Linked DNA regions of Homo sapiens. The protein of the gene in region 1 interacts with the protein of each later gene in a pairwise test. Each region holds a gene or a part of one and is shown in the gene's direction. Other genes may lie near its edges.

Region 1 (7,564 bases):
AAGTCTATATGTCCCTGATCCCTGTCCAGCCCTACAGAGCAGACCTGCCTTGGGGCAGAGCAGAAGTGCAGGACTGTATCTACACTGAGCAAAAAGATGAAGTGGCATGTATGTATGGATACCACTTGCCACCACCCCCAGCCTTCTCAGAGGGTTTTGAGCACAGGGTCAACGATGTGGCCCTCTGAGTTAGCAGCTGCCTATATAGCAGGGGTGTCCAATCTTTTGGCTTCCCTGGGCCACACTGGAGGAAGAAGAATTGTCTTGGGCCACACATAAAATATACTAACATTAACAATAGCTGATGAGCTAAAAAAATCGCAAAAAAATCTCATAATGTTTTAAGAAAGTTTACAAGTTTGTGTTGGGCTGCATTCAAAGCTGTCCTGGGCTGCATGTGGTCTGTGGGCTGCGGGTTGAACAAGCTTGCTGTAGAGCTTGGGGCCACAGCAAGGTCCTGTCCCAGAGAGAAGGAAGTCTGCCTTCTGGAGACCCAGCCAGGGCTTGTCAGGGATGGAGAGTTCAAAGGAAGGAATCTTGTATAAAACATCCCTTTCATCCCAACAGAAAGTTTTAAGATGATATGACCTAAATTGGATTCCAAAGGCCAGGAGCCTTCCTCTCCATTGGGTAATGCAGGTTTCATTCCATCATTTCATCATTCAGTGTTTACTGAGAACTTACTACAAATGAGATGCTATGCTAGGTGCATTCATTTTCTCATGTAGTCTTAGCAATAACTTTTGAGGTGCATATCATTAAACCCATTTTACACACGAGGAAGATCGAGGCATACACAGGCAGTAACTGACAGAGAAGTACTTAATTCTCCAGCTTTTGTTTTTCAGTTTCATGCTCTATTGTTTACAACAGGGGTTCCCAGACTTTTGGAACTTATAGATCAATAACATTTCAAAAATGATTTTTCGGAACAAACACAGAACCCAGTGCCAACTTTTTATTTAGCCAACGACATTGAAAAAACAGCATCTTCCAGCACCATGATTTCATAAAAGGGCATTTTAACACAGAGAATGTAGCAAGGATATAACCTTAGAATAAAGACAGCCTTCTAAGAAAGGACAGTTGGCAACCTTAACCTAAAATATCCTACATTGTTCTGTGTGTGTGTGTGTGTGTGTGTGTGTGTGTGTGTGTGTGTGTGTGTGTGTGTTTTCATCTCATTTCAAGCAGAACTGGCCAAAACTTTGGCATTGCAGGCTGTGGGAGCCACTGCCCTACCCCAGAGCTGCCTCTCCAAGCAAGAACAATGCCCTCTGCCCATAAGCAAATAAGCTTCCAGAATTTCCCATCCCCCTCTGCCCATCTAGGTCCCCCACAAATAAGGTCTGAGGTTGATTTATACAATCAGCTACATTCTCCACTTCTACTCCCAGCAGGTCTTCTAACTTTCACTGATATTCAGTGTCCGTTCCAGGGAAGGAAACCCATCCTCCCCAGTCCCCTTCTCTCTTAGACTCAGATGTTTTCTACATTTGCATTCCAGGAATATCCAGGCCCGCTGCAGCACTGCAGCAGCCCATTTGTCTCCAAAGTCCCCTAGTCCCCCACCCATGGTGAGAGCAGCAGGTCTTCTCCATATATTTCAGTCCTGAGACAGGGCCTTCCCCTTGCTGGGGTCCCCAGGGCCTGGCTACCATGTTATCAAAGGAACCAGAGCAGACCCCAGGCCTTCTAGGCAGTGCTGGAAAGGAGAGGGTGTGAGACCCAGGTGGAGCAATGGGGAGATTACAGAATGTGGGAGTCCTATTTATTCTCTCCCCATTCTTTACCTTCTCTCTCCTTCTCCTTCCTCCATCTGTGCCTGCCCCCTACCCCACCTGCATGAGCAGATGGGCAGTAGAGCACAGCCTGCCCTGTGGAGCCCTTGAATTCTAGCTTCACCATTTTCTTGCTATGGGGCATTTGGCAAGCCTCTTGACCTCTCTGTGCTTTAGTTCTCTTGCCTGCAAATGGGAGTAAGAATGTCAGGTTGACTCACGTGAAATTGCCAAAATTTGACAATATTGGGCTCACAAAAATCAAAATTTCATGTGGTTTAACAACAAAAAGGTGTAAACTGTAAAGTGTTAGATATATGTCTCTCATCAAGTCTGGCCCCCTCCTCCAGGAAACCCTCCCTAGCTACTCCAAGGCCAGCAATAGCTCCCTCTGAAATCTCTCATGGTTGGGGACATGATTTAATATACATTTCTTTCCTGTCTTCAGTTTTCCTGCTCTATTTTCATGCCCTATTCCTGAGAATGAGTCTAGCTTCCTCACAACTTGAAGCCCATCAAGGGCAAGACCTGGGGCTGCTCCTCCTCTGTCCCCTGGACTGTTGGCACACCACCAGTGTCCTCCATTAGGGTTTCCACATAAAGGAGGCAGGAGAAGCCAGATCTCATCAGGGTTTATCAAGGGCCTGATTTATCTAATAGTCATTGCTGCACCTAAAGTTGGTCCTAGATGGTCGTGAATGGGTGCCACTAATGAAATTGAGGGCGAGTGAGGTGCTGGTAGGGTGGAATTAAGAGATCCTGACCCCTGGCCGGCCTGTGGCAGCAGTATCCCAGGAAGCAGAATTTTGGTCTTATCCTCCATCTCCTCCAAGCATCCCCTCCAATGCCATTAGCTAACTTCTAGGGTCCCTCACTCATTTGTAGAGTTGAAACTTATTAATCTGCTTTCTGTCCACCCTTGTGTTGGTGGAGAGGTCCCTGAGATAAGGTGGACCTGCTCCACCCTCAGGGCACAGACTGCACTGTGTAATCAGTGCTCAGGGTCACAGGAGCTAATGGGCCATGGGAACCAAAGGCAGGGACATGACCAAGGTTTTGGTGATTAGGAAAGGGTTCCCAGAGGAGGAGATGTCTCTACCATAGGTCATGGGGAAGCCTATATGGGCTGACTTCCTGAGCGGGGTTAAGGCAGACTAACTCCCAGCTAGACAAAGAAGCTCAAAGAAGTGTGTTAAATGGAGGTCTTCCCTCCTGTGGCTGGTAGACCAGGGCAGGCTGGGCTCACAGCTCTTTAAGAACACTTCTTCTCAAGGAGACCCAAGGACACTCAGGGATTAGGCTTCCAGCATCTGTGCAGAGAACTGTCAGCTCAGAGCTGCTCAAAAGTAAAAATGCCAGCTACCAGTGATGTCATCACCCTAGTCATTCCTCTCACTGTGGGAGGTCCTGTGGTCCAGTGGGTAGAGCAGAAGAGCCCCTGCTAGGCTGCCCGCCCCGCATCCTGCTCTCCAAATTCCTACTCTGGATGGAGGAGGCGAAAGTGGTCACATTGGGCTAAGAATGAGAGTAAAAAAATCATTTGAAGAAAAACTTGATGTTATTCCTCAGAGAGATGGCAGAGCCAGGGGACCTTTTTGCCTCCCTCCTGTGAGACTTTGCTGTGTGTCCGCTCCAGCATTAACCTCGGCTCCAGCCTTCTCTGGACAACTCCCCTCCCCTTAATGCCCAATCTGTCCCCCTATCCATTTCTGAGCTAATCTGGGGTATCAGGCTGTCCATGGTGTTGGAGGGGGTAGGGCTATACCTTAGGCTGAGCTAGTGAAATCTGTCCATAAGCCCGGACACTGTACACTGGGAGAGACTGGGAGAGAGGACACACAGTTGGATCCTTGGCGGGGGTTGGGGGGAAGGGGGCTGGGCTGCAGACTGGAAGGGAGTGGGGGCTGTGCAGCTGCTTGGGGGTGCAGGTAGGGGACTGGGTGGAACAGGAACTCACCCAGCGTGGGTCCACATAGTAGGTGTCATAATGTGGATGGGAACACAGGGAGAAGGGGCTCCAAAGCCAGTTCCAGAGTGCTGGGGCGTCCGAGGAACCGGCCCAACCGCTCCCCGCTGCAGCCGGCTTGTCCCTTTCTCGGAACTACCGAGGGAGAGGCGCGTGCGGAGGTCGGCGTTCGGATCTCGCATCCGTCACTGTTGCCGGCGCATTTCCTCGAAGTCTTACCTCGAAGGGCTGGGTCCCACCCGCGCGCCCTGTGCGTGTCTCCCTGTTTCCCCACGCCCTCCTTGCCTGGCTGCTGCGAGGCTTTGCAGGGGAAAGACTGGCGCGGGGTTCGCACCCTGCCCATGTCACAGGAAAACCGTGGGAGCCTCCCCGACGCGGCGCATTTCCGGAAGCCCCCTCTCCAGGAGGGTTGCGGGAAGGCCGGGACTCTGCATCCAGACGAACCCGGTCGCCTCCCAAGAGGAAAGTCGGAGACCCAGCTGAGGGGCAAAAATGCCAGGGAAAGGCGAGCCCAGAGCTTGGTGATGGAGAAATTGGGAAGCCACCCCCCACCCTTCAATCTTAGGATGGGGAATTCGCAACTGAAGCCGGAGCTTCAGACTTGGGGCGCACTCCCAGCTTAGCCCAGGAAAGAGATTTAAGGGCGCAGCAGTGTGGATACCTCTCACCCCGGCCCCGAAGGTCTAGCGAGGGTCTAACCTGGGCCCCTTGCCAGGCCCGCCCCCCGCCCCTTTCCAGCCCCCGGCCCGTGCGCCGCTGCCCCTTTAAGAAGCCCAGGTAGGCAGGCCCGGCTGCTGGAGCCGCTCCTATGGCAACCCGCGAGCTGCGGCGGCTTCATGAATATTCCGGGGCGCGGGAGCCCGAGCGCTGCCGGAGGGCGCTTCGGGGGAGGCGGCCGCTGATGTAAGCCCGGCGGGTCGCTGGGCTCCGCTCGGTTGCGGCGGGAGCCCCGGGACGGGCCGGACGGGCCGGGGCAGAGGAGGCGAGGCGAGCTCGCGGGTGGCCAGCCACAAAGCCCGGGCGGCGAGACAGACGGACAGCCAGCCCTCCCGCGGGACGCACGCCCGGGACCCGCGCGGGCCGTGCGCTCTGCACTCCGGAGCGGTTCCCTGAGCGCCGCGGCCGCAGAGCCTCTCCGGCCGGCGCCCATTGTTCCCCGCGGGGGCGGGGCGCCTGGAGCCGGGCGGCGCGCCGCGCCCCTGAACGCCAGAGGGAGGGAGGGAGGCAAGAAGGGAGCGCGGGGTCCCCGCGCCCAGCCGGGCCCGGGAGGAGGTGTAGCGCGGCGAGCCCGGGGACTCGGAGCGGGACTAGGATCCTCCCCGCGGCGCGCAGCCTGCCCAAGCATGGGCGCCTGAGGCTGCCCCCACGCCGGCGGCAAAGGACGCGTCCCCACGGGCGGACTGACCGGCGGGCGGACCTGGAGCCCGTCCGCGGCGCCGCGCTCCTGCCCCCGGCCCGGTCCGACCCCGGCCCCTGGCGCCATGGACAAGCTGCCGCCGTCCATGCGCAAGCGGCTCTACAGCCTCCCGCAGCAGGTGGGGGCCAAGGCGTGGATCATGGACGAGGAAGAGGACGCCGAGGAGGAGGGGGCCGGGGGCCGCCAAGACCCCAGCCGCAGGAGCATCCGGCTGCGGCCACTGCCCTCGCCCTCCCCCTCGGCGGCCGCGGGTGGCACGGAGTCCCGGAGCTCGGCCCTCGGGGCAGCGGACAGCGAAGGGCCGGCCCGCGGCGCGGGCAAGTCCAGCACGAACGGCGACTGCAGGCGCTTCCGCGGGAGCCTGGCCTCGCTGGGCAGCCGGGGCGGCGGCAGCGGCGGCACGGGGAGCGGCAGCAGTCACGGACACCTGCATGACTCCGCGGAGGAGCGGCGGCTCATCGCCGAGGGCGACGCGTCCCCCGGCGAGGACAGGACGCCCCCAGGCCTGGCGGCCGAGCCCGAGCGCCCCGGCGCCTCGGCGCAGCCCGCAGCCTCGCCGCCGCCGCCCCAGCAGCCACCGCAGCCGGCCTCCGCCTCCTGCGAGCAGCCCTCGGTGGACACCGCTATCAAAGTGGAGGGAGGCGCGGCTGCCGGCGACCAGATCCTCCCGGAGGCCGAGGTGCGCCTGGGCCAGGCCGGCTTCATGCAGCGCCAGTTCGGGGCCATGCTCCAACCCGGGGTCAACAAATTCTCCCTAAGGATGTTCGGCAGCCAGAAAGCCGTGGAGCGCGAACAGGAGAGGGTCAAGTCGGCCGGATTTTGGATTATCCACCCCTACAGTGACTTCAGGTAAGGGGCCACAGCGATGATCCTGTGGGTGCCCTGCGCGGTGGCAGGCATGCCTCCTCCTGACCCTGCCTCCCAGCCGGAGTTAACTTTCCTGCCTTGCGCTGGGAGCTCCAAGAGAGGCAGGGCGCCTCTAGGCTCCGAGACACCCCCAGGCCCCCTCCTGCACCGCGCTGGGGGAACTTTCCTCTGGGTTCAGTCACTGGTCTTCTCGGGTCTGGGCTGCATTGGAGACAGAATGAAAAGGTGTTCTGAGCCTGGCCTACCCCTGCCGGCAGCCAGGATAGGGCTCTGCCACCTTAAGCCACATATTCCTCCTCCCCCTTCAAGGCTGCAGAGTCAGGATGGCCATCCTAGAGGCAGCTCCGGGTCATTCAGCCTGCAGAGCAGGGCCGTGAAGAGAGACAGACCTCTTAGCAACGGGCCAGCTCCTTGGGTGCTGACAGCAGGCATTTATGTCTGCTTTCTGGTGCCCTGGGAAGCTGCGGCCGGGTCCCTGGAGGACCGAAGTCACTGGGGCCTCAGGCCGGGATGAAAACCCCCTGCACCCACCGTAACCCTGAGCTCAGCTCCTCATGCTGAGTGGTGGGCCAAGAGCAGGCACCCTGGGCAGCTGGCATCCAGAGCGGCAGGGCTGAATGACCTTGCTCATAGTGATGGGTGAAGATGCCTGGTGTTCTGACTGATGAGCAGCTGTCCTGTGTCCCATGCTTGTCCAGTGGCCCATCCATACCCCAGAGACCCAAGCTCCAGCATCTGCTTGGTCTCTCATGGGCCACTCGTGGGTCCCCAAACAAGGTATGACTGCCAGTCAGGGAGAGGGACCCTGCCCCCTTCCACATCACTTGAGTCGGATGCCACTGAACAGCAGATACCACTGGGAGCTTGTGGGCATATTTGTGCAAAAAGAGGGATTGTTGGTTGTTTCTAGGGTTGGGATCAGGGATGCCTTTACCTAAGTCAAGGTCCTAAGGTTCCCTAGTGCCCCTCTGGGCTTTCGTGATGCATGAGATTGTGATGAAGGTCTGGGAAACACTTTTCAAGCTGGGTTTAATTCTCTCATTCTCTCTTTCTCTGGGCCCTGCCGCCTACTTATCTCCCTTCCTTGCCTACCTTAGTTGCCTGCCTATAAAAATGAGCATTTTGCCAACCCAGAGCCCTCTTTGCAAACTCCAGGGAAGCTGGGTTTGTAATGAGAGCAAAGCCATTTTCCATCCAATGAGAGAGATTTCTCGCACTGGGAATGACCAGTCAGACAACACTCGGTGGCTTAAAATAGGTAGTGAACAGAGCCCCTCCCCCCTTTTTTCCTTTGACAGACTGCTCTTCCTAACCCTAATATCTCCAGGGTTCCCATTCCCAGAAGACTAGGGAGACCAGAGGGCAGGCTAAACAGACAGCCATAGTCATCAAATTGTGTGAGCAAATGTGGGACCCTCCCATCAGGAACGGTGTCTGGGTTCCCAGTGCCAGGTTCCTGAAGAGTGGGCTTGCCTCTGGCCAGTACTGGGCCCTGAGGATCCTGGGCCGAGCTAGAGAGGAGTGAGCAGGGGC
Region 2 (4,907 bases), on another chromosome or scaffold:
AAAAAAAAAAGGAAAAAAACAAAACTAACATGGTCATTTGCAGAAGGGGCAGAAAAAGGGTCTCTGCCTAGACCTGGGGAGGTCAGGGAAAGTACTATGGATTGGTAACAACCGGCTGGGCTTCCTACAAGAGAAAAAGACTATACTCACAGAGCCAGACCCCATCTCAAAAAAAAAAAAAAAAAAAAGTCTGGCATGGTGGCTCAAACCTGTAATCCCAGCACCTTGGGAGGCTGAAGCAGGGGGATCACTTGAGCCTAGGAGTTTAACAACATAGTGAGACCTCATCACTACTTTTTTATTTTAAAAAAGAGTTAATAAAAAATAAAATGAAAATAAAAGGGTAAAAGAGCCAGTGGCAAAGTCTTGAGTGGATTAAAGCCAGCTCAGCTAACTTTCACAGCAGACTATATCATTTTAAAGGGGAAAAAGCACATCTCTGTTACATTGCTTAGGAAATATGCTTGGTATATACCCTGGGGCAATCTTATCTATTTGTTAAGTTTCCTTCCAACCCACTAGCCTGTGTGGCCAGGAGAGGGAGACAAAGATCTTAGAGCTCTCTAAATAATAGAACTTAAAACATCAGACAGAGAAGAGTATATTATCTTGGTGATGGTAATTCTCAATGAGGAAAATCCTGGGGAGGGATGTTCTGTGGGAGAATGCCTGCAAGTTTATTTGTTTAGTAGGTTTGATTATTCAGCTGATTGAAATTCCTTTCCCAGATGGGGAGATCTGATTCTCTTTTCATGAAGGAAAGAAAAGTCACATGCTAAAGAGACGGGCATGTCTTTAGAACGGCAGCAGGCAAACCCACTGCTGGGATCCTGGGGCTTTTACTAGTGGCTAGTCACAGGTTTACCTCCTGCCTGTGCTCCTTCTAGCTGTGTTGAAACCCACTTGCCCCATCTATGAACCGTGTTCAGCTCCATTTTCTGAGCCCCCTTATCTTTTTGTCCATACCTGTTGCAACTCTTTGCACGTTGCATTGTCATTGATTTGGTCTCTCCCATTCAACTGAGCCTCTCACAGAGTTCCTGTCACCTCTGCAGTTTCATCGCCTAGCATAGTACCTGGCACTTTAATTCATGCATCAAATGTCCATTGAGTGCCTTCTATGTGTTAGACATCTGCTATACCGAGCTAGACAAAGTTGGCAGACATGACAGCCGAGTGGAAAAGATGAGCCCCTAAACCAATAATCACACACACACACACACACACACACACACACAATATATATATATATATATATATATATATATATGTATGTTATATATATGTATGTTATATATATGTATGTATGTATGTATTAAAAAATCTTGGCCGGGAGCGGTGGCTCACACCTGTAATCTCAGCACTTTGGGAGGCCGAGGCAGGTGGATCACGAGGTCACGAGATCGAGACCATCCTGGCTAACATGGCGAAACCCCGTCTCTACTAAAAATACAAAACATTAGCCAGGCGTAGTGGCGGTTGCCTGTAGTCCCAGCTACTTGGGAGGCTGAGACAGGAGAATCACTTGAACCTGGGAGGCAGAGGTTGCAGTGAGCCAAGATCGCGCCACTGCACTCCAGCCTGGGTGACAGAGCGAGACTCCGTCTCAAAAAAACAAAAAATTTTTGCCTTGCAATCGTTTGCCTTGATGTTATGTCTAAAGCCCCACAATTCTCTAAAAACAGAGATGTATAAAAAAGCACACGTATATAATTCTCTGAAAACAGAATATAAATGAGTCATTGCTCCATTTAACTGACATTTGTTGAGTGCTTGTTATAAATATGGCATTATTCTAGCTGGTGTGAGGTTACCAATTTTTTTTAAACAAAAGTAATATGAATATATACACACACATTTAGTGACTGCATATGTGATGTGTGCTTTTGAAGAAAAAGGAGATGCTGTTGGAGGAAAATGGTGGTGGTGGTGGGAAGTGATTTAGAGTAGAACCAGGGAAGTCTCAGAAGTGACAACTAGCTGGAACCTAAAGAACGAGGAGGTAGCAGGTGGAAGAGAAAGGCAAAGGCATTCTAGGTTGAGAGAATAGGATGTGATAATGTCCCGAGGAAAGAGAGCTTACTGACAGGGAGGGAAGATGTCAGGTGTGACCGAACTGTAGTGAGCAAAGGGTAACTGAGGAGGTGGTCAGGAGCCTGCTCAGCCAATGGGGTAAATACTGTTAAGGAATTAGGACTTGATTTTAAGAACAACCATCGCATCATTTTAAAAGCAAACAAATTGCACTATAATTTCCCTCTTCAAAAAGGCACATTGGCTGTGCACGGTGGCTGACACATGTAATCCCAGCACTTTGGGAGGCTGAGGCGGGTGGATCACCTGAAGTCAGGAGTTCGAGACCAGCCTGGCCAATGTGTTGAAACCCCGTCTCTACCAAAAATACAAAAGTTAGCCAGGCGTGGTGACATGTGCCTGTAATCCCAGCTACTTGGGAGGCTGAGGCATGAGAATTGCTTGAACTGGGGAGGCGGAGGTTTCAGTGAGCAGAGATCGTGCCACCCCACTCCAGCCTGGACGACAGAGCAAGATTCCGTCTTAAGAAAAAAAAAAGGGCACATTGATGGCTATTCAAGGCAGAGAGGGGCACATATAACCCCAAAGAGATGGCTCTGGGGAGGGTTGTGTTGTATTACATTGTTGGCATTGTATTATCCAGGTGAGAGATGCTGGAGGCTGGGCGGTGCCAGTGGTGATGAAAAGGAGAGATGGATTTGAAACATAGGAATAATCTCTCAGATTGTTTCTTGGCATCACTTACCTAAAATGCTTCTTTCAAATATAGATGTACACACCCCTCCCTTTAGGATACTTGGGACAATGTGCCACTTAGACATAGGGGATGGAACAAATTGGAGAGTCTGTCAATGCCCCCTGCAATCTTTTCTCTTGATGTTATCTCATAATGCCCCACAATTCTCTAAAAACAGAGAACATAAATGAGTCATTGGTCCATTCCACTGACGTTTGTTGAGTGCTTGTTATGAATGTGGCATTATTCTAGCTCTTGTAAGGTTACCAATTTTTTAAAAAACAAAAGTAATGCAAGACTGCTGATGAAAATTTGGAATATGAGAAAAGCATAAAGAAGAAAATACATATCTTTAAGCACACCACCCACTGTTAACATTCTGATCTATGTACTTCTAATATTTTCTCCATTTTCATATGTACACATACATTTATTTACATGCATATATAAATATCAAAGTGTATATATATAATTTTCTCTGCCATTTAAATTTTTACTGTGTAACAATCATGGATTGTAAAAAAAGTGAATAAAATGTACGCAGTCAGTTTAAAGACTAACAAAATATGCATTAAATCACCAGCCAGGTTAAGAAGAAATACTATTACTTATACCCTGGCATCTCCCTCCCACCTTTACATAGCCAAATCCAGAAAAGATCCGTTTTCCTAACCTTGTTCGCCTATTTTATTATTTAAATTGCAGCAGGAGGGAAGCATGTCTACTTTATCCAATTTCACACAGACGCTGGAAGACGTCTTCCGAAGGATTTTTATTACTTATATGGACAATTGGCGCCAGAACACAACAGCTGAGCAAGAGGCCCTCCAAGCCAAAGTTGATGCTGAGAACTTCTACTATGTCATCCTGTACCTCATGGTGATGATTGGAATGTTCTCTTTCATCATCGTGGCCATCCTGGTGAGCACTGTGAAATCCAAGAGACGGGAACACTCCAATGACCCCTACCACCAGTACATTGTAGAGGACTGGCAGGAAAAGTACAAGAGCCAAATCTTGAATCTAGAAGAATCGAAGGCCACCATCCATGAGAACATTGGTGCGGCTGGGTTCAAAATGTCCCCCTGATAAGGGAGAAAGGCACCAAGCTAACATCTGACGTCCAGACATGAAGAGATGCCAGTGCCACGAGGCAAATCCAAATTGTCTTTGCTTAGAAGAAAGTGAGTTCCTTGCTCTCTGTTGAGAATTTTCATGGAGATTATGTGGTTGGCCAATAAAGATAGATGACATTTCAATCTCAGTGATTTATGCTTGCTTGTTGGAGCAATATTTTGTGCTGAAGACCTCTTTTACTTTCCGGGCAAGTGAATGTCATTTTAATCAATATCAATGATGAAAATAAAGCCAAATTTGAAGTAAAGTGTCTGGGCAGTGGCTGTGGGGATAGAAAGGAGAGATTTACAAATCATTGAATCTTCTTTCTCATGAAACATCATTTGTGTGTGACAAATTCAATTTATAAATAACCCAGATGTATTATGTAGAAGCTGAGGCTCAAAAGCTATCACTTGCTTACCAGACGGACATAGGAGCATTTATCTGTAATATTAATTCATGAGTGTGGAGTCTGAAGAGATGAATAAACAAACCATAAGATTACTTTACATTTATTGTTTTCCTGGCCTTTAACCTATTTAGAAGTCTTAAGACAGAACAAACATTTTTCTTTTTCTTTTTCTTTTTCTTTTGAGACATGGTCTCTCTCTGTCACCCAGCCTGGAGTGCAGTGGTGCAATCTCAGCTCACTGCAGCCTCAACCTCCCGGGCTCAAGTGATCCTCCCACCTCAGCCTCCCTAGTAGCTGGGACTACAGGCACGTGTGCCACCACACCCAGCTAACTTTTGTATTTTTTTGTAAAAACAGGGTCTCACTATGTTGCCCAGGCTGGTCTCGAACCTGAACAAACATTTCAAAGGACAAATAATCCATACCAGAGAAGTAGAGTATTTAAGAAGTACCCAGTATAACAAAACATATTTTAAAACTAACATTTAAAGTTTTGCAGAAAACTAATCTTAAAAAGTTCTCATTATTTAAGAAAAAAAAATAAAAAGTTATAATGTCGCTTTAAAAATGTATTCTTTTAACTTGATTTAGTTTTCCTCTATTTAT

What was found. The genes of interacting proteins can lie anywhere in the genome.
Region 2: the proteins of HCN4 (region 1) and KCNE2 interact in a two-hybrid assay, tested with the Homo sapiens proteins (one study listed by BioGRID).

What each region holds. Positions count from the first base shown.
Region 1 is NC_000015.10:73,365,935-73,373,498, reverse strand, and holds the start of HCN4 (potassium/sodium hyperpolarization-activated cyclic nucleotide-gated channel 4), read left to right. Parts: upstream 1-4,540; 5' UTR 4,541-5,228; coding exon 5,229-6,013; intron 6,014-7,564. UniProt on the Homo sapiens protein: Hyperpolarization-activated ion channel that are permeable to Na(+) and K(+) ions with very slow activation and inactivation. Exhibits higher selectivity for K(+) over Na(+) ions.
Region 2 is NC_000021.9:34,366,992-34,371,898, forward strand, and holds the end of KCNE2 (potassium voltage-gated channel subfamily E member 2), read left to right. Parts: intron 1-3,179; exon of another isoform or gene 3,180-3,475; 5' UTR 3,476-3,487; coding exon 3,488-3,859; 3' UTR 3,860-4,390; downstream 4,391-4,907. UniProt on the Homo sapiens protein: Ancillary protein that functions as a regulatory subunit of the voltage-gated potassium (Kv) channel complex composed of pore-forming and potassium-conducting alpha subunits and of regulatory beta subunits.